Regions from separate parts of the Homo sapiens genome. Here regions 1 and 2 are each linked to region 3. Evidence: fine-mapped expression QTL. A gene starts in region 3. Each other region holds a variant in brackets. All regions are shown on one strand. Distances are from middle to middle.

Region 1 (10,218 bases), 47 kb after region 3:
CCCGGCTAATTTTGTATTTTTCGTAGAGATGGCGTTTCTCCATGTTTGTCAGGCTGGTCTCGAACTACTGAGCTCAAGTAATCTGCCTACCTCAGCCTCGCAAATTGCTGGGATTTCAGGCGTGAGCCACCGTGCCAGGCCAAAAAAGGTTTAGATATAGAAACTAACATGGCATGCTCTGAAAATAGGCACCATATCAATCTGGCTGTGCTAGAAAGTCCAACATCATCATTATCATCTTCATCATCATCATCGTCATGGTAGTGAAGTCCTTTCACCTGTGTAAGGTTCACTACGTGCCAGACATTGCTCTAAGCCCTGGTGAAATCCTACTATGGTCTGTAGTTTCATTAAGAGTATTGTGGCCGGGCGCGGTGGTTCACGCCTGTAATCCCAGCACTTTGGGAGGCCGAGGCTGGCGGATCACAAGGTCAGGAGATCGAGACCATCCTGGCTAACACGGTGAAACCCTGTCTCTACTAAAAATACAAAAAAATTAGCCGGGCATGGTGGCACGCACCTGTGCTTCGAGCTACTTGAGAGGCTAAGGAAGGAGAATCGCTTGAACCCAGGAGGTAGAGGTTGTAGTGAGCTGAGATAGTCACTGCACTCCAGCCTGGGCAAAAGAGCAAGACTCCGTCTCAAAAAAGAAAAAAAGAGTATTGTACCAATGTCAATTTCCTGGTTTGATTGTCGCTCTATGGTTGTATAAGAAGTTCTGGGGGGTGGCCGGGCGCGGTGGTTCACGCCTGTAATCCCAGCACTTTGGGAGGCTGAGGAGGGTGGATCACGAGGTCAGGAGATCGAGACCATCCTGGCTAACACGGTGAAACCCCATCTCTACTAAAAATACAAAAAAATTAGCCGGGCATGGTGGCAGGCGCCTGTAGTCCCAGCTACTCGGGAGGCTGAGGCAGGAGAATGGTGTGAACCCGGTAGGCAGAGGTTGCAGTAAGCCAAGATCGGGCCACTGCACTCCAGCCTGGGTGACAGAGCAAGACTCCGTCTCCAAAAAAAAAAAAAAAAACAAGTTCTGGGGGGTGGGCAGGGGGCAGGTGTGGTGGCTCACGCCTGTAATCCCAGCACTTTGGGAGGCTGAGGCAGGTGGATCATTTGAGGTCAGGAATTCGAGACCAGCCTAGCCAACATGGTGAAAACCTGTCTCTACTAAAATACAAAAATTAGTGGGGCATGGTGGCACATGCCTGTAATCCTAGTTACTTGGGAGGCTGAGGCATAAGAATCGCTTGCACCCGGAGGTGGAGGTTGTAGTGAGCTGAGATCATGCTATTGCACTCCAGCTTGGGTGACCGAGTGAGACTCTCGCTCAAAAATAAAATAAAATAAAAAGTTCTCAAGCTACGTGAAGGGTACACAAGAACTCTCTGTACTATTTTCAAAACAGCATTATTGAGATAAAAGTTGCACTCCATGGCCACCATGCTGGCTCATGCCTGTAATCCCAGCACATTGGGAAGTCGAGGCGGGCGGATCACCTGAGGTCAGGAGTTCGAGACCAGACGAAGCAACATGGTGAAACTCTGTCTCTACTAAAAATACAAAAATTGGCGGGGCATGGTGGTGCATGCCTGTAATCCCAGCTACTTGGGAGGCTGAGATGTAAGAATCGCTTGCATCTGGAGGCAGAGGTTGCAGTGAGCTGAGATCGCGCCATTGCACTCCAGCCTGGGCAACAAGAGCGAAACTCTGCCTCAAAAAAAAAAAAAAAAAAATCGCAATCCATAAAGTTCGCTTGTTTTCATGTGTATAATTCAATGATTGTTAATGAATTTTAGTTTTAATGATTCAAAATTAGTATATTTACAGACTTGTGCAGTTACCACTATTGAGTTCCAGAACATTCCCAGCACCCCCCAAAGAAATCTTTTTTATTTATTTATTTATTTATTTATTTATTTTTTATTGATAATTCTTGGGTGTTTCTCACAGAGGGGGACTTGGCAGGGTCATAGGACAACAGTGGAGGGAAGGTCAGCAGATAAACAAGTGAACAAAGGTCTCTGGTTTTCCTAGGCAGAGGACCCTGCGGCCTTCCGCAGCGTCTGTGTCCCTGGGTACCTGAGATTAGGGAGTGGTGATGACTCTTAACGAGCATGCTGCCTTCAAGCATCTGTTTAACAAAGCACATCTTGCACCGCCCTTAATCCATTCAACCCTGAGTGGACACAGCACACGTTTCAGAGAGCACAGGGTTGGAGGTAAGGTCACAGATCAACAGGATCCCAAGGCAGAAGAATTTTTCTTAGTACAGAACAAAATGAAAAGTCTCCCATGTCTACCTCCTTCTACACAGACAGGGCAACCATCCGATTTCTCAATCTTTTCCCCACCTTTCCTGCCTTTCTATTCCACAAAGCCGCCATTGTCATCCTGGCCCGTTCTCAATGAGCTGTTGGGCACACCTCCCAGACGGGGTGGTGGCCGGGCAGAGGGGCTCCTCACTTCCCAGTAGGGGCGGCCGGGCAGAGGCGCCCCTCACTTCCCGGATGGGGGGGCTGGCCGGGCGGGGGGCTGACCCCCCCACCTCTCTCCCAGATGGGGCGGCTGGCCGGGCAGAGAGGCTCCTCGCTTCCCAGTAGGGGCGGCCGGGCAGAGGCGCCCCTCACCTCCCGGATGGGGCGGCTGGCCGGGCGGGGGGCTGACCCCCCCACCTCCATCCCGGACGGGGCGGCTGGCCGGGCAGAGGGGCTCCTCGCTTCCCAGTAGGGGCGGCCGGGCAGAGGCGCCCCTCACCTCCCGGACGGGGCGGCTGGCCGGGCGGGGGGCTGACCCCCCCACCCATCTCCCTCCCGGACGGGGCGGCTGGCCAGGCGAGGGGCTGACCCCCCCACCTCCCTCCCGGATGGGGCGGCTGGCCGGGCAGAGGGGCTCCTCACTTCCCAGTAGGGGCGGCCGGGCAGAGGCGCCCCTCACCTCCTGGACGGGGCAGCTGGCCGGGCGGGGGACTGACCCCCCCACCTCCCTCCTGGATGGGGCGGCTGGCCGGGCGGGGGGCTGATGCCCCGACCTCCCTCCCGGACGGGGCGGCTGGCCTGGCGGGGGGCTGACCCCCCTACCTCCCTCCCGGATGGGCGGCTGGCCGGGCAGGGGGCTGACCCCCCCACCTCCCTCCCGGATGGGGCGGCTGGTGGGGCGGGGGGCTGACCCCCCCACCTCCCTCCCGGATGGGGCGGCTGCCGGGCGGAGACGCTCCTCACTTCCCAGAGGGGGCGGCTGCCGGGCGGAGGGGCTCCTCACTTCCCAGACGGGGCGGCTGCCAGGCGGAGGGGCTCCTCACTTCTCAGACGGGGCGGCCGGGCAGAGGTGCTCCTCACATCCCAGACGGGGTCGCGGCCGGGCAGAGGCGCTCCTCACATCCCAGATGTGATGGCGGCCGGGCAGAGGTGCTCCTCACTTCCTAGGTGGGATGGCGGCCGGGCGGAGACACTCCTCACTTTCCAGACTGGGCAGCCAGGCAGAGGGGCTCCTCACATCCCAGATGATGGGCGGCCAGGCAGAGATGCTCCTCACTTCCCAGACGGGGTGGCGGCCGGGCAGAGGCTGCAATCTCGGCACTTTGGGAGGCCAAGGCAGGCGGCTGGGAGGTGGAGGTTGTAGCGGGCCGAGATCACGCTACTGCACTCCAGCCTGGGCACCATTGAGCACTGAGTGAAGGAGACTCCATCTGCAATCCCGGCACCTCAGGAGGCCGAGGCTGGTGGATCACGTGCGGTTAGGGGCTGGAGACCGGCCTGGCCAACACAGCGAAACCCCGTCTCCACCAAAACCAGTCAGGCGTGGCGGCGCGAGTCTGCAATCGCAGGCACTCGGCAGGCTGAGTCAGGAGAGTCAGGCAGGGAGGTTGCAGTGAGCCGAGATGGCAGCAGTACAGTCCAGCTTCGGCTCAGCATGAGAGGGAGACTGTGGAAAGAGAGGGAGAGGGAGACCGTGGAAAGAGAGGGAGAGGGAGACCGTGGGGAGAGGGAGAGGGAGAGGAGGGAGAGGGAGAGGGAGAGGGAGAGGGAGAGGGAGAGGGAGAGAGCAAAGAAATCTTCTACACATTCGCTCCCCCATTTCCTCCTACCTCCTATTCCTCAGCCCTAGGCAACTACTTTTCTGTTTTCCATCTCTATAGATTCACCTGTTCTCAACATTTTATATAAATGGTATGATAGAATAATGAATTTTTTTGTGTGTGGTTGTCTGCTTTTACTTGGCATAATGGTTTTGTGGTTGATGTTGTTGTTGTTATTTGTTTTTTAGAAATGAAGGTCTCACTCTGTCATCCAGGCTCAAGTACATTGGTGCTATCATAGCTCACTATAACCTCAAACTCCTGGGCTCAAAGGGTCCTCCCACTTCAGCCTCTAGAATAGCTAAGACTGCAGGTGCATGTCACTAAGCCTGGCCAGCATGATGTTTTATGATGTTTTTGAGGTTCATACTTGTTATATTGTTATGGCATGTATATCGTCTTTGGATAAATATGTATTCAGATCCTTTACCCATTCTTTTTTTTTTTTTTGAGATGGAGTCTCGCCCTGTCGCCCAGGCTGGAGTGCAGTGGTGTGATCCCAGCTCACTGCAAGCTCTGCCTCC[A/C]GGGTTCACGCCATTCTTCTGCCTCAGCCTCCCGAGTAGCTGGGACTACAGGCACCCGCCATCATGCCCAGCTAATTTTTTTTTTGTATTTTTAGTAGAGACTGGGTTTCACCGTGTTAGCCAGGATGGTCTCGATCTCCTGACCTCATGATCCACCCGCCTAGGCCTCCCAAAGTGCTGGGATTACAGGCGTGAGCCACCGCGCCCGGCCTTTTTTTTTTTTTTTTTTTTTTTTGAGATGGAGTTTCGCCCTGTCGCCCAGGCTGGAGTTAGTGCATGGAGTGCAATGGCACAATCTCGGCTCACTGCAACCTCTGCCTTCCGGGTTCAAGCGATTCTCCTGCCTCAGTCTCCCAAGCAGCTGGGATTATAGGTTCCTGCCATCACAAGCCCAGCTATTTTTTGTCTTTTTAATAGAAATGGGGTTTCACCATGTTGGCCAGGCTGGTCTTGAACTCCTGACATTGTGATTTGTCCCCCTTGGCCTCCCAAAGTGCTGGAATTACAGATGTGGGCCACGGCGCCTGGACTTTTTTTTTTTTTTTTTTTTTTTTTTGAGATGGAGTCTCGCTCTGTTGCCCAGGCTGGAGTGCAATGGCGCGATCTGGGTTCACTGCAACCTCTGCCTCTGGGGTTCAAGTGCTTCTTCTACCTCAGACTCTGGAGAGTAGCTGGGATCATGCAATTGCAATCCAGCCTGGGCAACAAGAGCGAAACTCCATCTCAGGAAAAAATGAAAAAAAAAAAGAGAGAGAAGCTTGATGAGTTGGACTTTATTCTCCTGCCTCAGCCTCCTGAGTGGCTGGGATTACAGGCGCATGCCACCACACCCGGCCATATCTCATTATTTAATTGACGATTTTCATTTTTTTCTTTTCTCAGTTTGCTCTTTCTGGATCTTCCGTTATTTTGATGTTGGGTCTTTTGGACTGGTCCCACGATTGTCTCATCTTTTCTAATTCTATCCCCATCATTACTCTTCTTTCCGGGAGACTTTCTTCCAACTCCTCCATGAACTTTTCATTTCCATCAAGTGTCACACTTTTCATTTCCAAATACTAAGTACTCTTTCTTAGTTTTTTTTTTTTTAAAAAAAACGGAGTCTTGCTCTGTCGCCCAGGCTGGAGTGCAGTGGCGCAATCTCGGCTCACCACAACCTCCGCCTCTTGGGTTCAAGCGATTCTCCTGCCTCGGCCTCCCGAGTAGCTGGGGGTTACAGGCGCCTGCCACCACGTCCAGCTATTGTTTGTATTTTTAGTAGAGACGGGGTTTCACCATGTTGGCCAGGAGGGTCTTGAACTCCTGACCTCATGATCCACCCGCCTCGGCCTCCTGAAGTGCTGGGATGACAGACGTGAGCCACCGCACCCACCTCTTTTTAGTTCTTCTTTTGTAGGATCATGTTCTTGTTTCATGGCTACAACATACTCTCTTGTCTCTATAAGGAAAATAGCTTTTCTGAAGTTTTATTCTCCAGGCATACTGTTTGCTTTATCCGTGTTTTTCTTTTTCTTCATCTTCTTTTAAAAAAGTTTATTTCATGTTAGGGGCTTCCTTTAAATGTCCATAATTGGCTCTTCAATTAAAATTATAGTAAGTGCTTCCAATGAGAAGTCCAGAGATCTCACCTGATTTTATGAAAAGAGTCATAGAAGTTTTTTTGGGAAAAGAGATGTTGCCGTGGGTCACTCCTGTAATCCCAGCACTTTGGGAGACGAAGGCAGGAGGATCACTTGAGGTCAAGAGTTCAAGACCAGCCTGGGCAACATGACGAAACCTCAACACAAAAAATACAAAAATTTGCCAGGTATGGTGTCTCACGCCTGTAGTCCCCGCTACTCAGGCCTGAGGTGGAAGGATGGCTGGAGCCCAGCAAGTGGAGGCTGCAGTGAGCCAAGATTGTACTGGAGACTACACTCCAGCCTGGGCAACAGAATGAGATCCTGTCTGAATTTGAAAAAAAAAAAGGCCGGGTGCAGTGGCTCATGCCTGTAATCCCAGCACTTTAGGAGGCTGAGGTGGGCAGATCAAAAGGTCAGGAGTTCGAGACCATCCCGGCCAACGTGGTGAAACCCCTGTCTCTACTAAAAACACTAAATTAGCCAGGCGTGGTGGCGGGTGCCTGTAATCCCAGCTACTAGGGAGGCTGAGGCAGTAAATCGCATGAACCCAGGAGGAAGAGGTTGCGGTGAGCTGAGATCACACCACTGCATTCCAGCCTGGTGACAGAGTGAGACTTCGTCTCAAAAAAAAAAGAGGAGATGTTGTAAATAAGCACTGCAAAATGAGAATGTGTAAGACAAAGGGAGTGAGTAGGAGGAGGGAAGCCAGGAAGATGGAAGTGAGGGAGAAGGAAAGCCTACCAGGCGCTGGGCAATGAAATAGGAATAGATTTCTGAATAAGGAAGGAGCATGGTGTATTTAATAAATGAACTAAGGCCACAGAGACTGAAACGGGCTGGGTGTGGTGGCTCACGCCTGTAATCCCAACACATTGGGAGGCCAAGGTGGGCAGATCACTTGAGTCCTGGAGTTGAAGACCAGCCGGGTCCGCATGGCAGAACCCCATCTTTACTAAAAATACAAAGAAAAAAAATCAGCTGGGCGTGTGGTGTGCACTTGTAGTTCCAGCTACCCAGGAGGCTGAGGTGGGAGGATCGCTTGAACCTGAGAGGCAGAGGTTGTAGTGAGCCGAGGTCGCACCACTGCAATTCAGCCTGAGTGACAGAGCACAACCCCGTCTCAAAAAACAAGAGTGGGCCGGACACAGTGGCTCATGCCTGTAATCCCAGCACTTTGGGAGGCAGAGGTGGGCAGATCATCTGAGGTTGGGAGTTCGAGACCAGCCCGGCCAACATGGTGAAACCTGATCTCTACTAAAAATACAAAAATTAGCCAGGTGTGGTGGGAGGTGCCTGTAATCCCAGCTACCCAGGAGGCTGAGGCAGGAGAATTGCTTGAACCCAGGAGGCAGAGGCTGCAGTGAGCTGAGATCACACCACTGCACTCCAACCTGGGCAACAGAGTGAGACTCTGTCTCAAAAAAAAAAAAAAAAAAAGAATGAAATAGGAAGTACCCTGAGTCTGGTGAGTGGACAAGAGGGGAGCCCTTGGAAGGCCACAGACCATGTGATGAGTTATGCTTCTTTCTTAAGAAGTAGGAAGAGCTACTGGGAATGACATGATCAGATTTGCATCGTGACAATCACAGACTGGCTGTTCTGTGGAGAATAGTTACGAGGCCATTATTATTATTATTATTATCATTACTATTATTATTATTATTTTATTTATTTATTTTTTGAGACAGAGTCTCACTCTGTCGCTCAGGCTGGAGTACAGTGGTGCGATCTCTGCTCACTGCAAGCTCCGCCTCCCAGGTTCATGCCATTCTCCTGCCTCAGCCTCCCGAGTAGCTGGGACTACAGGCGCCCGCCACCACGCCCAGCTAATTTTTTGTATTTTTAGTAGAGACATGGTTTCACCGTGTTAGCCAGGATGGTCTCGATCTCTTGACCTCGTGATCCGCCCGCCTTGGCCTCCCAAAGTGCTGGGATTACAGGCATGAGCCACCCTGCCCGGCCAGCCATTATTATGTCGCTTAGACTAGAGATGATGGTGACTCGGACCAGATGGGACAGCGGAGATGGAAAGGATGGATGGGTGGGAAAGCCGTCCTGCAATAACTGGAAGTGTGCATCTGTGGTGGGAGGTGGGTGGCATTGTTCAGGGACGACTCCTCAGTTCCCGATTTGCACAGTGCGTCGATGGCAGGGTCATGCACAGACTGAGTGGACTGGATGCAGGTTTGGAAGGAAAGCGCCTGAGTCGGGTTCTGGAGAACCCTTTGGATGTCAGAATGCAACCATCCCATCCTCTAGATTCATCTGCTCATTCTCAGGCTACAGGTACTTGAATGACCTGTTTCTTCAGTTTCTTTTTCTTTTCCTTTTTTTTTGAGAGACAGGATCTCACTCTGTCACCCAGGTTGGAGTGCAGTGGTGCAATCTTGGCTTACTGCAACCTCTGCCTCCTGGGTTCAAGCGATTCTCCCACCTCAGCCTCCTGAGTAGCTGGGATTACAGGTGCATACCACCACATCTGGCTAATTTTTGTAATTTTAGTAGAGACAGGGTTTCCCCATGTTGACCAGGCTGGTCTTGAACCTCTGACCTCAAGTGATCCGTCTGCCTCGGCCTCCCAAAGTGCTAGGATTATAGGCGTGAGCCAACGCACCCGGCCAAGGATGACCTGTTTCTGTATCTGTCACCCCTGGTTTCCCTCTGCCGAATGACTCCTACTTTCTCAGTTCCTCACTCTCTAACACAGTCCTGAGTGCAGGCTCTCTGATGCCAGGGCTCTGGTTCATTGACTCACTATTACACCTCATAGTTTGTGCTTGGCATGTCGTAGGCCCTTTATAAATATTTGTTATAAAGAGAATAAAGTCAGCTGGGCGAGGTGGCTCACACCTGTAATCCCAGCACTCTGGAAGACCGAGGTGGGCGCATCACCTGAGGTCAGAAGTTCAAGACCAGCCTGGCCATGCTGAAACCCCGTCTCTACTAAAAACACAAAAAATTAGCCGGGCATGGTGGCTGGTGCCTGTAATCCCAACTACTCGGAAGGCTGAGGCAGAAGAATTGCTTGAACCTGGGAGGCGGAGGTTGCCGTGAGCCAAAATAGCGCCATTGCGCTCCAGCCTGGGCAACAAGAGCGAAACTCCGTCTCAAAAAAAAAAAAAAAAAAGAGAATAAAGTCTGGGTGCGGTAGCTCACGCCTGTAATCCCAGCAATTTAGGAGGCCAAGGCGGGCAGATCACTTGAGACCAGTTCAAGACCTGCCTGGCCAATATGGTGAAACCTAGTCTGTACTAAAAATATAAAAAACAGCCGGGCATGGTGGCAGGTGCCTGTAATCCCAGCTACTCGGGAGGCTGAGGCAGGAGAATCGCTTGAACACAGGAGGCAGAGGTTGTAGTGAGCCAAGATCGCACCATTGTGCTCCAGCCTGGGCAACAAGAGCAAAACTCCATCTCAAAAAAACAAACAAAAAAAAGACAGAGAATAAAGAAAAATGAACTGTCCCAGTGATACTTGGAGCCACAGAGTAAATTGGCACATCTTCCTTAAATCATAAAATTGGGCCGGGCGCGGTGGTTCACGCCTGTAATCCCAGCACTTTTGGAGGCCGAGGCGCGCAGATCATGAGGTCAGGAGATCGAGACCATTCTGGTTAACACGGTGAAACCCCGTCTCCACTAAAAATACAAAAAAAGTTAGCCAGGCGTGGGGCCAGGCACGGTGGCTCACGCCTGTAATCCCAGCACTTTGGGAGGCCGAAGCGGGTAGATCACGAGGTCAGGAGATCGAGACCATCCTGGCTAACATGGTGAAACCCCGTCTCTACTAAATGTACAAAAAATTAGCTGGGCGTGGTGGCAGGCGCCTGTAGTCCCAGCTACTCGGGAGGCTGAGACAGGAGAATGGTGTGAATCCGGGAGACGGAGCTTGCAGTGAGCCGAGATCGCACCACTGCCCTCCAGCCTGGGCGACAGAGCGAGACTCCGTCTCAAAAAAAAAAAAAAAGAAAAAAAAATTGACAGTTTCACTTGTCATT
Region 2 (10,218 bases), 55 kb before region 3:
CCCTGTCTCTACTAAAAATATATATTAAAAAAATTAGCCGGGCGTGGTGGCGGGCGCCTGTAGTCCCAGATACTTGGAAGCCTGAGGCAGGAGAATGGTGTGAACCCGGGAGGCGGAGGTTGCAGTGAGCCGAGATAGAGCCACTGCACTCCAGCCTGGGCGACAGAGCGAGACTCCGTCTCAAAAAAAAAAAAGAAAAAGAAAAAAGAAAACAGCGTTTAACTCATCCTCTGATCTTGGAGCCCATCCCTTACATAAAGTAGGACTCCAGTACCTTGTTTAATCTTCACAATCATGAACAACTCTATTAACACATAATATGTTTATAGCAACTCACTACTCAAACTGACCGGAATAAACCTTGCAGGCAGATAACAAAGGGTTGGTGGGCTGCATGATTGAATGCAATGAATGAAAGTCACCATCTGAGCCGGGCGCGGTGCCTCATACCTGTTAATCCCAGTACTTTGGGAGGCTTTAAGATGGTGTAGCCACTGCCAAGGGGTGGAGGGAGGGTGGTCTTAGGAGCAAAATGGTCTGCTAGCCATTGTCTGTACACTTTCACCTGTGTCTCTTTTTCTTCCTTCTTACTCAATGCTTCTTCTTTATTGTTTTTTCTTTTTGAGACAGTCTTGCTCTGTTGCCCAGGCTGGAAGTGCAATGGCGTGATCTCGGCTCACTGCAACCTCCACCTCCCGGGTTCAAGCAATTCTCGCGCCTCAGCCTCCTGAGTAGCTGGGATTACAGGCGCGCGCCGCCACCGCACCTGGCTAATTTTTTGTATTTTTAGTAGAGACCGGGTTTTACCACATTGGCCAGGCTGGTCACTAACTCCTGGGCTCAAGCAATTCACTCACCTCAACCTTCCAAAGTGTTGGTATTATAGGCATGAACCACCCTCCCTGGCCAATTTTTAAATTTTTTGTAGAGACGGGGAGTGGGGGCTGGCCATGTTTCCCAGGCTGGTCTCCAACTCCTGGCCTCAAGTGATCTTCCTACCCCAGCCTTTCAAAGTGCTGGGATTACAGGCATGAGTCACCGCACCTGGCCTCAAACTTTAGCATTTCCATTGCATTCCAAACAATTTCCATAAAGAGGGGAGCAGTTGAAACGCATGCTGAGCTGAATGAGTGAGTCTCTCTAAGGGCTCCGGGAGCAGCTGGAGTGCATTGCTCTCTCCCTCTGTCCCACCCACCCTGTGCCTGACATGCAGCTCTGGGGTCTTTCTGCAGGGGCTGCGGGCTGGGAGCCGGGGCACCGGCCCTGCCTACGCACTGGTTGGCGTCTTTCTCCTCGGGCTCCTCGGAGGCGTCTTCACACTCCTTCAGCCTCCAGTCCATGATGTAGCCAATGACGGGGGCCGTCAGCAGGCACAGCAGCTGGAGCACGCCGAAGATGGAGGTGTAGAGGCCAACTGTGGAGGAAGGCGCTGCGTCATGGGGACGCCTGGCAGACAGCCCTGGAGCAGGGACTGGGCACCAGCTGGGAAGGGGCTGGTCCCCACAGGCTCTTCTGGGGTCTGCCCCAGAACCCCCTGTCACTATGGGTCTTGCGAGGAGCCCGGAGACCTTAACTCTGAAGTTGAGGATGGAGCACGGGGCAGGTCACCTTCTTCTCGGTTCCAAATCCCCTGCTTGTTTCTAAGAAACAGCTAATGAAACCCAGAGTGTCACAATGGCCTTCCCAGAGCTCCAGGAAGTCGCTATAACTTGGGAACTCCTGTGACGGAGGCTAAGTGACGGGCCGTTAGTTTCTGTCTCTAGAAATAGCCCAGAACGGCTGGGCGCGGTGGCTCATGCCTGTAATCCCAGCACTTTGGGAGCCCGAGGTGGGCGGATCACGAGGTCAGGAGTTCGAGACCAGACTGACCAACACAGTGAAACCCCGTCTCTACTAAAAATACAAAAACTAGCTGGGCGTGGTGGCAGGCACCTGTAACCCCAGCTACTCAGGAGGCTACAAGGAGAATCACTTGAACCCGGGAGGTGAAGGTTGCAGTGAGCCAAGATCATGCCTCTGCACTCCACCCTGGGCAACAGAGCAAGACTCCATCTCAAAAAAAAAAGAAATATCCCAGAAAGGCACCGCTCACGGGGCTCTGATGTCAGGGCTTCCATATTCAAAGACTTAAAATGACAGTGGATTTTCCAGGGAAGCAGACGAGGAATGTTGATTGCCCCAGTTTTACCCCCACGGCTCTAGCCAGGAGGCATGTCTGGAGCTTGAGGTGAGGAGCTTCTGGGTTGAACAGAGACTGGCTGGGAGGGGACATCACAGCATTCCCTGACAATCCCCCCCACCCCCCGCTTACCCGTGGCCATCACTGCATCAAGAAAGCAAAAGTGAAAAAGCAGAAAGAAGAGAGGTTAGTGGCAGAAATCTCAGTGCTACAGAGAGATGGGAGAGGAGGCAGGCTCACTCCATGCCCAGCACGCACTGCATTTCCCACACTGCGTTTCCCGCACTGCATTTCCCACTAAGCGTGACTCGGGGCGCTCAGGGGAGGCAGAGCTGCAGCCAGGCCTCTGGAAGTGGACTTGGGACAATGCCCAGCCCGGGCCCCTGCTGACATTCTCCTGTCTGCTGGTGCCGGGTCACAGGCGGACTGGTGAATCAGGCCTGTGACGTTGGCGGGTAGCGTGATGGGGAAGTGGCGGGCATGCGGAAGACCTGGTGCAATCAGGGTCCCTGTCACCACACTGCCTGCGGGAAGCGGCTCTGTCACATCTACCTCCTGCTGTGCTCAGAGAGAGGGAAAGGTCAAAGAACCTGCCCCTGATGCCCAGCCAAGGCATCTGACACCATGGGTCTCCTCCAGATGGCCAGAGCTGGTCTCCCTTCCACTCCAAGAAACGGGGACCATGCCTGGGCCTGCTCCCCTTCCTTGGGCCATGGCCCCCCTGCCACAGAGGCCTGGTGGCCCCTGAGCTGCTGCTCCGAGTGGAATGTCCTGGTCTAGAGGCCCTTGGCTGCTCCAGTGTCTTAAGACCCATATGTGAGTGCTGGCTCTGACCTTGAACAAGCTCCTCCATCACTCCAGGCCTCGTTTTTCAGGTGTATATGATGATAGTATCTATCATAAATGATGACGTAAACAGATGATAGTATCTATTTAACTCCTAGATTGTTATCAAGTCAAGGACAACAATAGGAAAACATGTCACCTGTCAACTCTTACAAAGGGAGGGTAGGACAGGTGGCCCCTGACTAGGGGGTGGGGGTGCAGGGGGCACCCGACCCATCTGGCCAGCCACAGCCTCTGTACCCTGCTCCCATTTTCAGGCCTCAATCCCCAAGCACTGTTGGCCCTGGACTGTTTTCCCCCCTTAATTCTGTTTCTCAATGCCTGCTTCTTCCCAGTAAGTGCCACACCCTGAGGGTGGGTGGGAGAGTGAGGCAGCAGTGCCCACTTTGGCTGGGACTGGGCACTGCTGAGGACAGCATGGGCCACGTCTTCCCCATCTCAAGACTGGCTTTTTGGCTGGGCATCGTGGCTCACGCCTGTAATCTCAGCACTTTGGGAGGCTGAGGCACGTGGATCACTTGAAGTCAGGAGTTGGAGACATGGTGAAACTCCGTCTCTACTAAAAATACAAAAATTAGCTGGGCATGGTGGCAGGTGCCTGTAACCCCAGCTACTTGGGAGGCTGAGGCAGAACAATCGCTTGAACCCGAGAGGCGGAGGTTGCAGTGAGCCGAGCTCATGCCACTGTGCTCCAGCCCGGGTGACAAGAGCGAAAATCCATGTCAAAAAAAAAAGACTGTATTTTTGGCTGGGCATTGTGGCTCATGCCTATAATCTCAGCACTTTGGGAGGCTGAGGTGGGAGAACTGCTTGAGCCCAGGAGTTTGAGACCAGCCTGGGAAAAATAGCAAGACCTTGTCTTTATGGAAAAAAAAAAAAAACAAATTAGCCAGGCATGGTGGCACACACCTGTAGTCCCAGATACTTAGGAGGCCGAGGTGGGAGGATCCCTTGAGCTCAGGAGTCGGAGGCCGTGGTGAGCTATCAGTTGCACCACTGCACTCCAGCCTGGGTGGCAGAGCAAGACCCCAACTCAAAAAAAAAAAAAAAAAAAAAAAGGCGGCCTTTTCCCAGCTGCCAGCACCCTGGCTAGTTAGGGTTTCCCTGAATCCGCAACTCCTGTTTGATGGCGGGTCTCAAACGCTGGGAGGCAGCAGAGTCACCGGTCAGCGGCAAGGCCTGGAGTCTCCATTCGGAACCAGCACCCGGGAGCCTCTGCCGCGGGTGGTCGCGGGGCCGTACGCGGAGGCGATGGCTCTGGTGCTTTGAGCCGTTCCTCAGCAGCACGGCACACCCCCTCCTGCGGAGCCGCAAAGCTCACGAGTGTGCGGAAAGTGACCCGGACCCTGCAGCTGCCTCTCGGCCGGAGCTAGGGCTATGGGTGTTGGGTGTAACGGGTCACAGAAGGAGGAGGGGGAAAACCAGTGCCTCGTCTGCCACAGACCAACCTTCCTGGCCTGGCTTCCTCTACTTCTTGAAATTGACTTTTTGAACATACGAAACAGTTGGAAACATTCCTCCTGGGCAGCAAAAGATTTCTCAGACAGCTTGAGTAA[A/C]AGACGCTGACTCAGCAGCAGGGAGATGAGCCTTTCGAGGGCCAGGGACCAGCTCTCTCTGCACACTTTGGGGTTTCCGCCACTCCAGGGCTGAATGTTTATCAGGCTGGGTGTGGAGGTTTACGCCTGTAATCCCAGCACTTTGGGAGGCCAAGAGGGGAGGATCCCTTGAGCCCAGGAGTTCGACACCAACCTGGGCAACACAGCAAGACCCTATCTCTGCAAAGAATTTAAAAATTAGCTGGGTGTGGTGGCGCGCACCTGGGGAGCCCTAAGAGGTCAAGGCTGCAGCGTTCACATCACTGCACTCCAGCCTAAGCAACGCAGAAAGAGACCCTGCCTCAAAAAAACAAGAAAGAAAGAGACATGATAGATTAGGGTTCCCCAAAGTGTGTTCCACAGATATTTTTTTTTCTTTTGAGATGGAGTCGCACTCTGTCGCCCAGGCTGGAGTGCAGTGGCGCAATCTCGGCTCACTGCAACCTCCACCTCCTGGGTTCAAGCAATTCTCTGCTTCAGCCTTCCAAGTAGCAGGGATTACAGGGGCCCACCACCACGCCTGGCTAATTTTTTGTATTTTTAGTAGAGATGGGGGTTTCACAATCTTGGCCAGGCTGGTCTTGAACTCCTGACCTCATGATCCACCTGCCTCAGCCTCCAAAAGGGCTAGGATTACAGGCGTGAGCCACCGTGCCTGGCCTAGACTACCATTTTCACAGTAGAACTGGCTGTTATCTGGTTCCCTTTGCTATCTTTTCCTTTTGATAAAGCTGGATTTCTCATCCCCTAAAAACCTGATAACTGATTCTTCACAAGTCCTAGGGTATCTTCACCTTGATAAAAACAAGGAAACCATCGGAAAAAGTGGCACACCAGGGAGGCTGCCAATAAAAAGGATTTGGAGTGTTTGTCCCGCCTGGGGATGACTAAGGCTGACTCAGCTCAGGCCCCGGGGAAGTCCTGACTTTCTCTGTAGAATCAAAACCTCTAATCAGCTGAAGACCTGCCCTGTTTGGAAAAGTGGACTGTGGGTTATCAGCTGTGTTTGTTGGAGCTGACAAGCCTCAACTGTTCGCAAGCTCCGAGGAAGTCTCTGCCCTGCCCTGTTTCTCGGTGAGGGATGCAGATCCCAGTGTGGGCCAGTTGCCCCAGCGTCTCCAGCCCCGTCCTGACCTCGATGCCCAGGGTGTCCACGCACCCACCGTGCCACTTTCTGGGAGGACTTTGGGCTTGACCTGCTGTCTTTCAGCCATGCTCAGGTGGAGCGTTCTGTTCTGTTTTCATTTACAGACACACACGGCAACCCTCCCCCTCAGGCACTGGAAAACACACACCCCACACCCCACACCCAGGAGGCTATTTTGGTCCTTCCCTCCCTCCTGGACCAGGAAACCCTGATGGGGACACGAAGAAACAGTTGGGGCTGGCAGTGATGCAATAGCTCTGACGGGCAGACAGCTCCTGGGATGCGGCCTTTCCATGGCCCGGCTGGCCCGGCTCAGCTTAACACATTCTGGCCGGTGGCCAGTGGGCTGGGCTCAGGCCGGGGAGTGACAGCGACCGAGGCTGCCCGGGGCACCTACCTGTCTTCTGGTCGCCGCTGACCAGGAACTTGAGGATGTTGTTCATAGCCCCCATGTAGAAGATGAGCCGCAGCTGCGTGACGCACATGGTGACCAGGCTGAGCAGCAGGATGGGGCTGAACACGCTGTGCATGAAGGAGGGGGCCACTGCAGGGAGAGGGTGCGGGGCTCAGGGCCGGGGCACACTGTCCCCACCACCGGGGGGACACGCAGATCCCTCCACGCTGGAGGCCAGGAGGGGGCCCTCGGGACGGGCCTGGTGAGGGTAACGGGGTTGGCGCTGCGGTGGGGTCACCTCTTGGGTGAAATCAGGCAAATCCCTTTCCCTCCCCCAGGCCTTCCTGAGCGCCTCTGCAGAACAGGGCGGGCGGGGCCGCCTCCCCTTTTGGGGTGAGGTGGGAATGGGGTGAGCCGATACCCACAGAGCACTCCCTGCCCGTCGCCCGGCTGCGGTCTCAGGCGGGTACCTGCGGCATCCGGCTGGCACTTCACCTCCAGGTCGACGGTGGACAGGCACAGCTTGTGGCCCTCCTGCAGCGCCACCTGCTCCTTGGCACTCCTCATGGAGCTGCCCACACTCAGGCGCCGGCCCACCGTGGTCACCTGCTTGTAGAACTGCTTCCCTGTGATCTTGTGGTCAAAGCCCAGCCAGCTGAACTTGATCTTCACCCTGGGGCCCCGGGAGAGTGTCTGTGGGTGCTGCCCGGGACCCCGGCTGGGGGGCGGGGGCTGGGGGCAGGCGGGACGGGGGCACCTCTACTTACGAGTAGTCCATGTCCTCCGGCCCCGGGAAGGGCTCAAGGGGCCAGTTAAAGAAGCAGTTGAGGAAAACCAGCCCGGAGCAGCCGGCCCAGACCACGAGGACGACGATGAAGGAGACACCAGCATCATAGATGAGCTGACAGGCACCGCGGGGACGGGGTGGGGGGGGGAGGGGGCAGAGTTAGCCCGGGGAGGCCAGAGCCGCAGCAGGCAGGGGCGTCTGGCCACCCCTGCTGTCCCTGTGCTGAGCCGCGCAAAGAGGCACAGCCCTGCCAGCCTGGGCGTTGGGGCATCAGGCACCCGCCTTCCAGTCCTCCCACCGTGCCTGCCCTGCTGGTCATCTGGGCCTGGCGTGTGATTAGCCCCCCGACTCGGAGGCCTTCCTGACCGCCCCGCCATGACCACGGCACGTCTTGCAGGCTCATAGTGATCGGCCCAGCAGAGGGGACGGTGCTCCTGGTCCGTCGGCTTGTCTGGTATTAGCGGAGCTCCCTGAAGGCGGGAACCGGCCAGCCCCGTCCACTGATGCTTCCCCAGTGCCTCTGAGAGCTCACATGGCAGAGGCCAAAGAAATGCTCAAGGAAGCCAGGCATGGTGGCTCACGCCTGTAATCCCAGCACTTTGGGAGGCCAAAGTGGGCGGATCATGAGGTCAGGAGTTCCAGGCCAGCCTGACCAACATGGTGAAACCCCATCTCTACTAAAAATACAAAAATTAGCCGGGCATGGTGGCGGGCACCTGTAATCCTAGCTCCTTGGGAGGCTGAGGCAGGAGAATCACTTGAACCTGGGAGGTGGAGGTTGCAGTGAGCCGAGATCGTGCTGCTGCACTCCAACCTGGGCGACAGAGCAAGACCCTGTTCCCCCCCAAAAAAAGGAGGAGGAAGAACTTTCGGGATGCTCCCCAGTCCAGGGGCATGAGAATCTCTGCAAGTCCATAGGATGGCTGGCCCCAGAGTCCCAGCTCCCACCACTTCAATGCCCAGGTGGCCAGCCCACACCGTGTCCCCCTCTCCTCGCCAACAGCATTCCCACACACACCACCGAGGAAAGGGGCTTTTACTTAGTGTGAGGGTCAGAGGTGGGAGAAGCCCCTACGGGGCCCTGGCAGACCCACAGGGTCTGGGGAACTTGGGCTGATGGACTGTGAGGTGTTTGCTTCGTCCTGACCCTGTGTGACTTCCACAGGCTCAAAATCCTGCCTAGGAGGGAAACAGCTGAAACACTTGGCCAAGAGCAGTGCTTTGGCTGGCGGGGAGTAACGGTACAATAACAGCAGGCTGGGGGTTGGGGAGCAGGGGAGCAGCGGGAGACCAGGATGACGGAGGAGACGGGGGCAAGACTCACAACTGGAAACAGACTCACCCACCGCCCTTCCCCTGCCCCAGCCCCGAAATGCAAAGGCACCTGCGGCAGATCCTGCAGCCACATGCGTGATTCCCGTCCCCTGAGGCCCCGCGGTTTTCATTTGTCGCCCCTGTGATGCCCAGGTGCATCCTGCCCGGGTGGGGGTGGTGGAGAGGGGCCACCCCGGGTGCCCACAATTGCCTCCCTCTTCAGAGAGGGTGGAAGGAGCCTGGAGCAGGCCTCTGCACAGACACCAGTGCAAAATACACGTGCTCACCTTGATTCCTGGAAAGGTGACTGCCGAGGAGGCGTAGGACCCAATCATCAAGGCAATAAACGTGGACCGAAGGTCGCCGAACATGTTGGGCAGCTGAGAGATAAGAAGCAGAGAAACCTCAGTGGGGAGGATGCACCAGGGAAGGGGAGGAGGAGGGGACAGAGAACTAGGCCCCATGAGGCCCCTTCTTCACCTGCGCCCCTTCCTGTGTGACTCACAGGGGCATTAGTTCAGGGGCAATGACCGCTCACTGAAGGTTTCTCCTTCATGGACTGAGGCTGATGGGGCCAAGGAGGGAGGTAATGCAGAATACAAGCAGTTGTCTGACTTTCCGGCTGGCAACCCTCCCTATCTCTCTGCTCCTGGCAGAGCCCAGGAGCCTTCTTGTCTTTTCAGGGTAACACTGAGATGCCAGAGAACAAAGTTATGAGCCTCAGGCAGCCCTCAAAGGGAGAAAGCCTGTTAAAAATAAGAATCTATTTGGGGATAATAGCATCATTTTATAAATAAAAATATCAGCATTCCAGAAAGACCAGATGTCAGCAAAAACTGCTTTTGGTTTGGAGAGGGTAGGTTTTTGGAAGATGTCAATCAGAATTCTACAGTTCTCTTCGGTCTGAGGATGAAGCTGGCCCAGGATTCCTGCTTCTGAATTTCTTTTCTTTGTTTTGAGATGGGGTTTTGCTCTTGTTCCCCAGGCTGGAGCGCAGTGGTGTGAGCTCGGCTCGTTGCAACCTCCGCCTCCCTGGTTCAAGTGATTCTCCTGCCTCAGCCTCCCAAGTCGCGAGATTAGAGATGCCCGCCACCATGCCTGGCTAATTTTTGTATTTTTAGTAGAGACGGGGTTTCACCATGTTGGCCAGGCTGATCTCAAGTGATCCGCCCGCCTCGGCCTCCCAAAGTGCTGGGACTACAGGCGTGAGCCACCGCGCCCGGCCTCCTGCTTCTGAATTTCTCAGTACAAGCAGGGGATTATCTTCCCACAGGATGTTCGGCCCGAGCAGTTAGCATCCTGGAAGGCCAACGGGAAGCAAGGTCCGGGCTCTCTTCCCAACGAAGCCACTCTCGGCATCTCACATCAGCTCATTCTGGGTACAGGGCAAGAGGGGGCCCACCTGAACAGGACTTCAAGGCTAACTCTTGCTCATTCTACCGAAATCCAGGCCTAGGGCAAACTACATCCTCCCAAAGAGGCACAGGTTCTCTAACCTCAAGAGACATCACACTGTGTGTAGCAAACCTTTCCTGTCCACACCCAGCGTCCCTGGCCTTGGGGGCTGCCCTCTGGATAGCCATGCCAACCTATTTCATTAAATTCAGGCTGCTTATGGGGACTTAATCTATGTCCCCTCCACCCTCCCCACCACTCCCCATTTGTCTTGAATCTTTTTCTTTCTTTCTTTCTTTTTTTTTTTTTTTGAGACGGAGTCTCGCTCTTTCGCCCAGGCTGTACTGCAGTGGCTCTATCTCGGCTCACTGCAAGCTCCGCCTCCCAGGTTCACGCCATTCTCCTGCCTCAGCCTCCCGTGTAGCTGGGACTATAGGCGCCCGCCACCACACCCGGCTAATTTTTTTGTATTTTCAGTAGAGACGGGGTTTCACCACGTTAGCCAGGATGGTCTGGATCTCCTGACCTCGTGATCCGCCCGCCTTGGCCTCCCAAAGTGCT
Region 3 (10,218 bases):
CCCAAAGGTACCAGTGGGGCAGGGGTCTTCACACCTGGGGTGAGGCAAGACTCGGGGAAGGGGAGACCAAGGCAGGCCTGGCCCCCACTGTGGGGCCCCACCCCTCCGCCCCACGCTCCTGGACTCAAGGACCCAACTGGCCACTCCTCAGCAGTGAAGCTCAGGTGCAAATAGGGCCTTGAACTTGGGGCCAAATCCAGCAGGTGACAGACTACAAGTCCCCAGAGGGCGAGGAGGGCAGGAAGCCTCAGAGGGGAGGGAGCTGGGATCCTGCCCAGGCCCCCCCAGAACCCACTGCTCTCCCCCAGTCTTCAACAGGAGGGAGGCCCCTGGGGCCGCATGAACCTGTGTGTCGGGGAGGGTGGTGCTCTCGGAGAGAGCCGCTGAGCTGAGGGTCCTGGGGGAAGGTGTACCCCACCCTGAACAGAATGGTGCCCTCACCTGGGCCCCAGCCAGCCAGGGTCACAGCGCTGACAGTGGCCAGTATCTGGCTCACAGGCCTCCCCATGTCGGCAGTGAGGGCACTGCTGTTCGCAGCTCTCGCCAAAGGTGCCAGGCAGGCAGGGCTGCTGGCACTGGGTCCCGTTCCAGCCCGGCTCGCAGGACTCACAGCTGCCTGTGTCTGGAGAGCACGGCTCATTGTGTTTGCAGCGGCCACAGCTGGGAAGAGAAGGGCTTCGTGGGAACAGTGGGGGTGGATGGATGGAGCGCCCACCCCCTCCTACCCCTGTACTCCACGCAGGCCTTCGGGGGCCCTGGAGAGTGTTCGGGTCCCACCTGGGTCAGGCAGGTTTGAGCCTCAGTTTCCCCACGTTGTACAATGAGGACAAATGAGGGCTCTTACAGGATCCCATCCCTTTCCTTCCAGGCATCTGCTCTGTGACCGTCTTTCCCTGGGTCCCAGGACCATCAGGAGCCAGCAGCCCAGCCAGGGCAGGCGAGTCACCACCAAGCTCTGAGTCCCATTTGCGAGGTCTGCCAGGCCTTCCCTCCTGCTCTTTTCACTTTTCCTTTTTCCACACTGAGCCGTCCCCAGGTCTGGCATGAATGGGACTCAGTAGTGTCTTCTACCCCATCACACGAAATGCAAAAAATGTAAAGTGTTTTCACCCAGGGGTCCTCAAACCCTGGGCCATGGACTGGTACTAGTCCGTGGCATGTTAGGAACTGGGCGACAGCGTAGAGATGACCAGCAGGGGAGCCTGACCGCCTGAGCTCCGCTGCCAGCCAGATCAGTGGTGGCCTCAGATTCTCATAGGAGCGCCAGTCCTATTGTGAACTGCGCACGGGAGGGTCCAGGTTCCATGCTCTTTACGAGGATCTAATGCCTGATGATCTGTCACTGTCTCCCATCACCCCCAGATGGGACCCTCGAGCTGCGGGAAAGCAAGCTCAGGGCTCCCACTGATTCTATATTATGGTGAGTCATATTATTATTTCATTATAGATTACAGTGTAATAATAGAAAAATTGTCTGCCATGAAACCAGTCCCTGGTGCCAAAAGGTTGGAGACCACTGTTGTCACCAATATAATTTCACATTTGCCATATCTTAATTTCCCATTGATGCCTAATAGTTACCTGAAGTTTCTCCCTCAGATGCTTAACTAGCTGGGATCATATACTTGGGTCAGACCCATTAGTAGGGGAGAAGAAGGGCAGTTTATAAAAGCCATTTAGCTGATCCTGACCAGCATTTTTATTTCTTATTTTATTTTATTATTATTTTCTTCAAGACTGAGTCTCACTCTGTCGCCCAGGCTGGCGTGCAGTGGCGCGATCTTGGCTCACTGCAACCTCCGCCTCCCGGGTTCAAGTGATTCTCCTGCCTCAGCCTCCCAAGTAGCTGGGATTACAGGCGCCCAACACCATGCCCGGCTAATTTTTGTATTTTTAGTAGAGACGAGGTTTCACCATGTTAGCCAGGCTGGTCTCGAACTCCTGACCTCAGGTGATCCGCCCGCCTCGGCCTCTCAAAGTGCTGGGATTACAGGCGTGAGCCACCGCGCCCAGCCAGGGATGAAATTTCTTACTGTGAGTGCAGCCAGTCAAAGTTTGAAAGCCACTGAGCCCTAAAGGGACCTTGCTCAGGACCCTTGGTCACTCGATCCACTTATTTATTATTTTTTTTGTAAGAAACCATTTTTTTAATTTTCTTTTTTTAAATATATTTATATATATTTTTTTATTATTATACTTTAAGTTTTAGGGTACATGTGCACATTGTGCAGGTTAGTTACATACGTATACATGTGCCATGTTGGTGTGCTGCACCCACTAGCTCGTCATCTAGCATTAAGTATATCTGCCAATGCTATCCCTCCCCCCTCCCCCCACCCCACAACAGTCCCCAGAGTGTGATATTCCCCTTCCTGTGTCCATGTGATTCCATTGTTCAACTCCCACCTATGAGTGAGAATATGCGGTGTTTGGTTTTTTGTTCTCGCGATAGTTTACTGAGAATGATGATTTCCAATTTCTTCCATGTCCCTACAAAGGACATGAACTCATCATTTTTTATGGCTGCATAGTATTCCATGGTGTATATGTGCCACATTTTCTTAACCCAGTCTATCATTGTTGGACTCGATCCACTTATTACCTACATATGGCTTGCTAGCAGTGCTAGTATATTTTGCACAGCAGTAATCAATGAAATGAGCAGGTGAGGCTGGACCTGGGGCAACAAAGCGTTTTTAAAAGTTTTTGTTTTGTTTTGTTTGAGACGGAGTCTTGCTCTCTGGCCCAGGCTGGAGTGCAGTGGTGCGACCTCGGCTCACTGCAACCTCCGCCTCCAGGGCTCAAGCGATTCTCCTGTCTCAGCCTACCGAATACCTGGGACTACAGGCGCAGCCCGGCTAATTTTTGTGTTTTTAGTAGAGACGAGGTTTCAGCATGTTGGCCAGGATGGTCTCGAACTCCTGACCTCAGGTGATGCACCCGCCTCAGCCTCCCAAAGTGCTGGGATTACAGGTGTGAGCCACCCCACCTATCCGACTTTTCCCCTTTCTCGTTCCTCTGCTTTGTATGTTTTTTGAGAGGAGCACCGCGAAGCCCTGACCCCTCCTCCCGGCGCCCCGCCGCGGCCACCTGTCTCCGCTCCGCCCCGCCCGCTCACAGGTCTCCGCGCAGCCTCGCTCACCTGTGTCCGCCTCCGCCCCCTCCCCCGACCGCTCACCTGTGCCCGCCCCGCCCCCACCCTGCCCGCTCACCAGTTTCCACCCCGCCCCCTCCCCGCCCACCGGTGTCCGCCCCGCCCACCGGTGCCCGCCCCGCCCACCGGTGTCCGCCCCGCCCACCGGTGTCCGCCCCGCCCACCTGTCTTCGCCCCGCCCCCTGTCTCCGCCCCGCCCCCCTGTCTCCGCCCCGCCCCGCCTGCTCACTTGTGTCCGCCCCCGCCCCGCCAGCCCACCTGTCCCCGCCCCGCCCGCTCACCTGTGTGCGCACTGCACCCCGTGGCTGCCTGCCGGGCAGGGCAGCTCGCAGCGCGCTCCGCGGAAGCCGGGCGGGCAGGTGCACTCGCCGGAGGCGGCGCTGCAGCGGCCCCGCACACACTCGCACTGCTGCTGGCATTCGGGACCCCACCAGCCCGGCCGGCAGGCGCAGCGGCCGGAGTCCTGCTCGCACGGGGAGCCGTGGCAGTTGCAGCGGAAGCTGCAGCGGCGCCCCCACCAGCCCGGCTTGCACACGCAGGCGCCCGTGGCCTGCTCGCAGCGCGCCGCCGCGGTGTTGCACTGGCACGGGCGGCGGCACGTGGACGACCACCAGCCGGGTTCGCAGTGGCACACGCCGGTCGCGGGGTCGCAGCGCCCGTGGGGGCCGCAGGCGCACGGGAACTCGCAGCGGGCTCCCCAGCGGTCGGCCTGGCACTGGCACGCGCCCGTGGCTGGCTCGCACTGGCCGTGCGGGTGGCAGGGGCAGCTCTCACGGCAGTCGGGGCCCCAGTACTGGCCCGGGCAGCCTGCGGGGGTGGGGACGGGAGGGGTCAGCGGGCTCAGGGCCGCGCGCAGACCCTTACCCTGCGTCCCCTTCCTCAAGGAAAAGGGGCGCTGGGCCCATCCTCCAAGAGCCGGGGACAGACCCTCAGAACATCCGGCAGCCTGTCCTGGGCAACACTCACTTCCTGCTCCGCTCTGACCTACAGAAAACCCTTAGCCATTAGTGGGAGGCTCAGCCTGCCACTTCACATTCCAGAACACACTCAGAGATCCTGAGTGGGCAGGGGACTTGCCCAGAGCGTGGCACCGAGGTTGGTGGGCCTTCCTCCATGCCTGCTCCTCCCTGCCGAGATGGATCTCTGCTGGGCTGGAGGAGAGCTGGCTTTCTCCTGATCTCAGGCCTGGATACTGCCCGCCAGGGTGTCGGGAGAAGCCACCTTTCCCCTAGTGATTCCTTGATTCCTGATGCCCACCCTCTGGCTCTCCTGCTTCCCAACCCCTTTCCCTTCCCTCTCTTTCTGCCAGAGAGGGCAGAGAGCCCAGCCAGGGGCCCCCTTCCATCCACTGCCCATGTATAAGGTATATGTGGGAAAGGCAAGTAATACACTCATTTTACAATGAAGGGGAATCACAGGTTTTCTGAGAAGTGGAAGAGGAAGATGCTCAGGTGGGCAGTGCTTTGTGGATGTGGGTAAAAACCCGGTGACTCAGGTCATCTCCCGGGAGTGTGTGTCACTTCCTGTCTCTGGACCGCAATTCCTCAGTGAAGCTGGGGGGGATTCTGGCCCTGCTGTCCTGAGGCTGCATGGCTACCTGCCTCGCCTGCTCCCACACCACTGCCCCCGTACCCAGCTCTGCCCAGCAACTTCATCTGGCCCTTGAGACTCACGGGAGCTGCAGTGGGCCCCAAAGAATCCAGGCTTGCATCGACAGAGGCCCGGCTTCACACACACCTCGTCTTTCTGGCAGGCGTCCGGCCCCTCACAGATGGCTGAAAGACACCCCACCCAGGTTGGAAAGACGGGAGCAGGACCAGGGGACACCCCTGCCCTCTCACTGGCTCCAGGGGCCATGCCTCCTCAAGAGGTGCCCCTTCAGGCCTGGGGGTGCGTCACAGGAGAAACCCTGACTCCTGGTATCAGGAGGGGCAGGCCCCATGGGGTAGGAAGGAAGGGTTGTCACTGGGCTACGGCCTCCCTTCTCCTTGGCTGAGGGTCTGTCCTGGCTACTCACGGATGGTGCATTCTTGATCCTTCTGCCTCCAGCCTGCGCAGCACTGCAGCTCAGCAGAGGGGCTGTGGGGCAAAAAGGGGTCAGCCGGACATGGTGGGGGGTGCAGCCTGGCCCTGAGGAAGGTGGATCACTGTCTCTGGCTGCAGTGGGGGAGGCTGCCTTAGCCCCCTGGGGAGGCCTAATGGATCTTTACAGCTAGGGTCCCCAGCCCCTCCCCTCTCCTTCCCTGACCCTTCCACCATCTGCCCTGGCTGGCCACTACCTGCCAGACCGCCATCAGCAGTCCCTTCCTTTCAGCCTAAGCCCCCTTCCTAGTCTCCTCCTTCCCCTAACGGCCTCAACACCGGTTCAGCCACCCGCATCAGACTCCCACGAGACCCACCTGCTGGCCACACGCATCAGACTCCCACGAGACCCACCTGCTGGCCACACAGACGTGCTGCCCTTTGGGGTCCAGCTCGGACCCCTGAGTCCCCCGAGTCCAGAGCAGCAGCAGCGGGAGCAGCAGCCCCAGCCCCATGGCAGGCAGCTCGGTGGGAGCGCTCGGGTTCGTCTGGCCCCCACAGCTCCCAACCCCCTCCCTGCTTCCTCTCAGGGCTTTTCCTGAGGAAACCAGGCCGGAGGGGCGGGCTGCCACGAGGCACCTCCCTGAGAGGGAGGGGGTGGCTGGAAAGACTGACACTCAAAAAAAGAAAGGGAAAGAAAGGCAATGGCAGGGCTGACTGGCCTGGGCCTGGAAGGGCCAGAAGAATGAAGTTGCAGGTCCCTGGGTGCCGGGGCCAGGGAAGGGGGTGGACTGAGGCTGGGAGCCACGGCTTTCCATCAGGCCACACTCCCAAAGCAAGGCCTGAGCTGCAAGAAGCCACCCCACCCAGTGACTGAGCAAGGAGACCAGCGAGGACCCCTCAGCCTGCCTCTGCTCCTGGCAGGGTTGGGAGGTGGCACAGACATGGACAGACAGGCGAGGAACAGTTTCTGTGTATTACGGGCAGTTCTTTATTACATGAGCTCAGGCCGTCTGCACAAAGCCCTGGGAGCTAGGCAGTCAGCTCTCATTTCATGGATGGGGAAACTGAGACTCAGAGAGGCACTCTTATATCTGGCCCCAGAGGCTCGGTACAGAGACGTAGAGAGGGAGGCGGGCTGAGACCCCGTCCTGCCCTGATGCAGGCCAGGATTGGGGCAGACCCCTGGCGAGGGCTGTGAAGGCGGGAGCCCTGTCCTCATTTGAGGCCACACATCCTTCCACAGCCAGACCCCTAAGTCAGGCCTCTGGGGCGGCTGAGGCCCCCAGACAAAGGTGTTCGTGGAGGGCAGAACAGGGCGGATCAGGAGCTGGAGACTGTGGTTGGGCCTCCTCTTCTCCCCCTAGCTTGCTGGGTGCAGGGCTGCTGGTCTCATCCTCAGAGGATTCAGCTTTACCCCGATACCATAGGCCAAAGCTGGAGAGAGACAGCCAGAGGCACTTTGAGCCAGGAAGCCAGAGAGGTCAAGGATATGGGTGAGGGCAGGGGATGGTGAGAAAAGGGGAGAGGGGGAAGAAAGGGCAGCCTGAGGGAGTGTGAAGGTGATGGGGGCCAGGGCCAGAGAAGCAGGAGGGGACGGTGTGCTTAGAGCCAAGCACAGCAGGGTGACGGGCAGAGAAGCGGGAAAGGGGATCCTGAGAAGGACCAGCCAGGGCCCTTCCTCCCTCCCCACACTCTTGCCTTTCCCCTTTCCCCAACATACAAACTCTGTATTTTGGACTCCGGGGGTGGGGGATGGTCTCCCTTGTCATCGGAGAGCAGGATCCATGGGCCAGCCTCATCCTCACTGAGACAGAGGAGAGAGGAGAAGTGAGGGCCATTGATCAAGGCCCTGAGGGACAACAGGAATCCAGCAGGGGGGATGGAGGGACTGCAGGGCCCCCGGGGCTGGAGAGAAGGCAACCCTGGGGAGATGCAGGATGTCGAGCCTTTAATTTTTAATTTTTTTTTTTTTGAGACAGGGTCTCACTCTGTCGCCCAGGCTGGAGTGCAGTGGTGCGATCTCAGCTCACTGCAACCTCCGCCTCCCAAGTTCAAGCGATTCTCCTGCCGCAGCCTCCTGAGTAGCTGGGATTATAGGCACATGCCACCATGCCCGGCTAATTTTTGTATTTTTAGTAGAGACGGAGTTTCACCATGTTGGCCACGCTGGTCTCGAACTCCTGACCTCAGGTGATCTACCCACCTTAGCCTCTCAAAGTGCTGGGATTACAGGCGTGAGCCACCGCGCCCTGCCAAGGGTTTATTTTATAGCTTGACACACAGCAGGCCCTGACACAGCCGCGGCTACAGTTTCACCCCCGTAAGAATAAACAGACCCAGCCAAGACAGGAACTTGAAGAATGAATGTGGAGAGGCAGTGTTGTCAGGCAGAATGGATGGCAGGCAAGGCAAGGGGAGTGGTGAGATCCAGGGAGAAGGGCGCAGGCTGGACAGCGGCCATGGGACACAGCCAGAGCAGGTCAGCAGGCCCTAGAAGCGGCCAGGCTAGGGAGGCTCAAGGGGTGACCGGGTTGGGGTGACAGCCTCAGTCTGAGACAATGGGCTCAGAGGGTGACCAGGCTGGGTCATCAGGCTCAGCAGAATGAGGGAGGGAGGCCTGGCTCCGTGGGAATGCAGGCAGGGACCTACCTGCTCTCTGCTTCCTCTGGTGTCCCTAACATCTTGGCCTTGATCTTCTTCCGCTGCTTCCGGACAGCCACCTTCATGGCCTCGAGCAGAAGGCCGGGGACCCGGTGGTCTGTGAGCAGCTCCCTAAAGAAAAGGGGCAGGGAGGGAGAAAGCCCTGGTGATGCCAGCCATGGGGATGCCAGCAGTGGAGATGCCAGCCGCAGTCCTCACTCCTGGTACCTGTGCACGCAGCTCTTCCCTGAACACGGGAAGCGCTCTGCCTTGCTGACACCCTCAGACCTTAAATTAGGTGGCCCCGTGGCCCCCTCCTAGGAGAGATTCCCTGGCTGCTGCAGCTGCAACCCTTTGTACTGTCCCTCTCCCCTGTCTGGATGACATTGCAGGAGGGCAAGGGCTGTACAATTCATGTCCTCCCAGTTCCCAGCGCAGGCCTGGCACATGTCACTGTGGACATGTCAATGACTGGAGAATGAGGTGGGGTGATCGGAGGCCCCCCGGCTTCCCAGCGTCCTCACCGCTGGAAGTAGGCCAGTTCCTCCTTGAGCAGGAACACTTTGGCTTTGAGTTCATTCCGCTCCTGAAGGATCTGCTCAAACTCCTCCCGACTGAAGCGGCACTGCCCTGCCTCCGAGGGGCGCCCGAGCTGCTGCGCGGCCTCCGCCTTTGGAAGGACAGGCACAGTCAGAGGGTCGCCTCGGCTGGCGTTCCCCCGCCCCAGGGCCATCATGGGAATGCTAGAGGAAGTGACGGGCCGGGAGACTTGGGGGACAAGGGTGCCCTAACAGATAACAGAGCAGTGCTCCAGCTGAGAGCGGGGGCCGAGGCCGGCCGGGGGCGCAGATCTGTCTGCCACCTCCCCGCTTCCTGGCCGACCTGCTGTGCAGCATGCAAACCTTGCTTGAGTGCCCACCGAGGGCTGGACGCTGCGTCCTGGGCTGGGTCCTTGCCCTCATACGGCACTCACCGGGTCCTCAGGGTTCCCTGGGGCGCCTGCGCCGGCGGTCGCCCATTCGGGCTCCTGTCCGTGCTGGTGCCCGGGCCGCCCGGCCTGCCCCCGCGCTCGCTCTTTAGCCTGCGGAGTCGCGGCTTCGCCAGGCTGCTGGCGCTCCCTCTCGCGGTCCTGCGCGGCGCGCAGCTGGGTCTGCATGGCCGCCAGCTTGTGCCGCAGCTCAGCGTTCACCAGCAGGAGGCGCTGCAGCTGCTCCTGCAACTGGGAGCGGAGCAAAGGGTGGGGTGGGCGGGGCACCGAGGGCCCCCCGGAGCCCCGCCCAGCGCCTGCCTCGCTCCGCCCCCGCCCCCGGAGCCCCGCCCAGCGCCTGCCACGCTCCGCCCCCGCCCCGCCCCAGAGCCCCGCCCCGCCCTCACCGCCTCGGTCTCCTGGCCGCGCTGCCGCAGGTCGCGGTTGTGCGCCCGGAGTTCGTCCCGCTGTCGGTCCGTGACCTCCTTGAGCTGCCGCAGCAGCGCGCGCTCCTCTGAGGAAGGGGCGTTCTTAGCGGCGGCGGCGCGCGGCCCGCGGGAGGGAGGGGAGGACCCGAGCAGGTCGTCACCCGCCCTGCCCTGGCCGGGGCTGCGCTTACCCTGTGGCCCCGCGCGCAGCTCCCTGCGGAGGCGCTCGTTCTCCTCCCGCAGCCGCCGCAGCTCCTGCTCCGCCGGCTGCGCCGACACCTGCAGCTGGGGAGACCCGGGTCTCAGGCTTCGGCCCTGCCGGCCCCGTGGGTGGCGAAGGGAGGGCCATGACTCACCGAGTCCGGGGCGGGCCCCACGGCAGCCTGTTCCAAGAGCTCCAGCGCCCGCACCACTAGCGGCACCAGCCCGGCCGCCGCCTCCGGCCCGAAACGGCGCGCCAGATCCTGCAGCTCAGTGCCCAGGGCCCCGGCTAGATGGTACACAAGCTCCGCGGCCGATGCCGACCCCGCGGCCTCCCGAGACCCCCAGCCAGGCACCCCGGGCGCCGCCCTCCTGGGCTCCATGTCTCCCAGAGGCTTAGGGCTGCGACCCCCCCACCCCACCCTCCACTGGGACGGGGAAAAGCGAAACAGTTCCGCCCCAGGAAGCCGTTTAGGGCGGTGTGGGCGGGGTAGAAGCGATAAGGGTAGGGAGGAACGAGGAAGGGAGAAGGCGTGGGGTAGGGAGATAGTGCCCTAGGTCGCCTGGGCTCTGTCCTTTCCACCCCCAAGGTCACAGGAAACAAGACAGCCAACTTCCAGCCAGGCGTCCAAGAGCTGAGGTTCAGGGCTGCAAGTGGTCACTTGAGTGGAGCCCTCCCCACAGGCCCAATCCAGGCTCCGCCCGTTTGGAGTCATGGGGCCAACTTGGCAGTGGCCCGCTCCAGGCGAGAGGTGACAGGTAGGCAGCCGGTCTCTGGCCTCCGCCCGGCTGTACACAAACTG

Evidence for each region. PIP is the estimated chance that this variant, and not a neighbour inherited with it, causes the effect.
Region 1: its variant is fine-mapped to the expression of SCARF1 in whole blood (TOPMed, PIP 0.99).
Region 2: its variant is fine-mapped to the expression of SCARF1 in whole blood (TOPMed, PIP 0.99).

What each region holds. Positions count from the first base shown.
Region 1 is chr17:1,686,673-1,696,890 of GRCh38, forward strand. No RefSeq gene overlaps it. Among named protein-coding and RNA genes, the nearest start is that of PRPF8, 6.9 kb to the left of the region's middle. RefSeq lists enhancers at 3,424-3,924, 3,925-4,425. The variant A/C (reference allele first, on the strand shown) is at 4,600.
Region 2 is chr17:1,584,638-1,594,855 of GRCh38, forward strand. It overlaps SLC43A2 (solute carrier family 43 member 2), which reads right to left. Exons shown (of 14, transcript NM_152346.3): 6 at 8,550-8,642; 7 at 6,929-7,062; 8 at 6,632-6,834; 9 at 6,165-6,311; 10 at 1,276-1,414. Among named protein-coding and RNA genes, the nearest start is that of PITPNA, 27 kb to the left of the region's middle. RefSeq lists enhancers at 444-991, 992-1,537, 1,538-2,084, 2,085-2,630, 2,631-3,177 and 4 more and a silencer at 7,225-7,390. The variant A/C (reference allele first, on the strand shown) is at 4,582.
Region 3 is chr17:1,640,007-1,650,224 of GRCh38, forward strand. SCARF1 (scavenger receptor class F member 1) reads right to left here and starts at 5,726. Exons shown (of 11, transcript NM_003693.4): 1 at 5,591-5,726; 2 at 5,172-5,233; 3 at 4,828-4,929; 4 at 3,436-3,961; 5 at 442-660; 6 at 1-34. The coding sequence starts at 5,691. RILP (Rab interacting lysosomal protein) reads right to left here and starts at 9,860. Exons shown (of 8, transcript NM_031430.3): 1 at 9,571-9,860; 2 at 9,406-9,499; 3 at 9,194-9,300; 4 at 8,793-9,038; 5 at 8,344-8,489; 6 at 7,829-7,951; 7 at 6,900-6,983; 8 at 6,144-6,613. The coding sequence starts at 9,798. The coding sequence ends at 6,436. RefSeq lists a silencer at 9,169-9,463.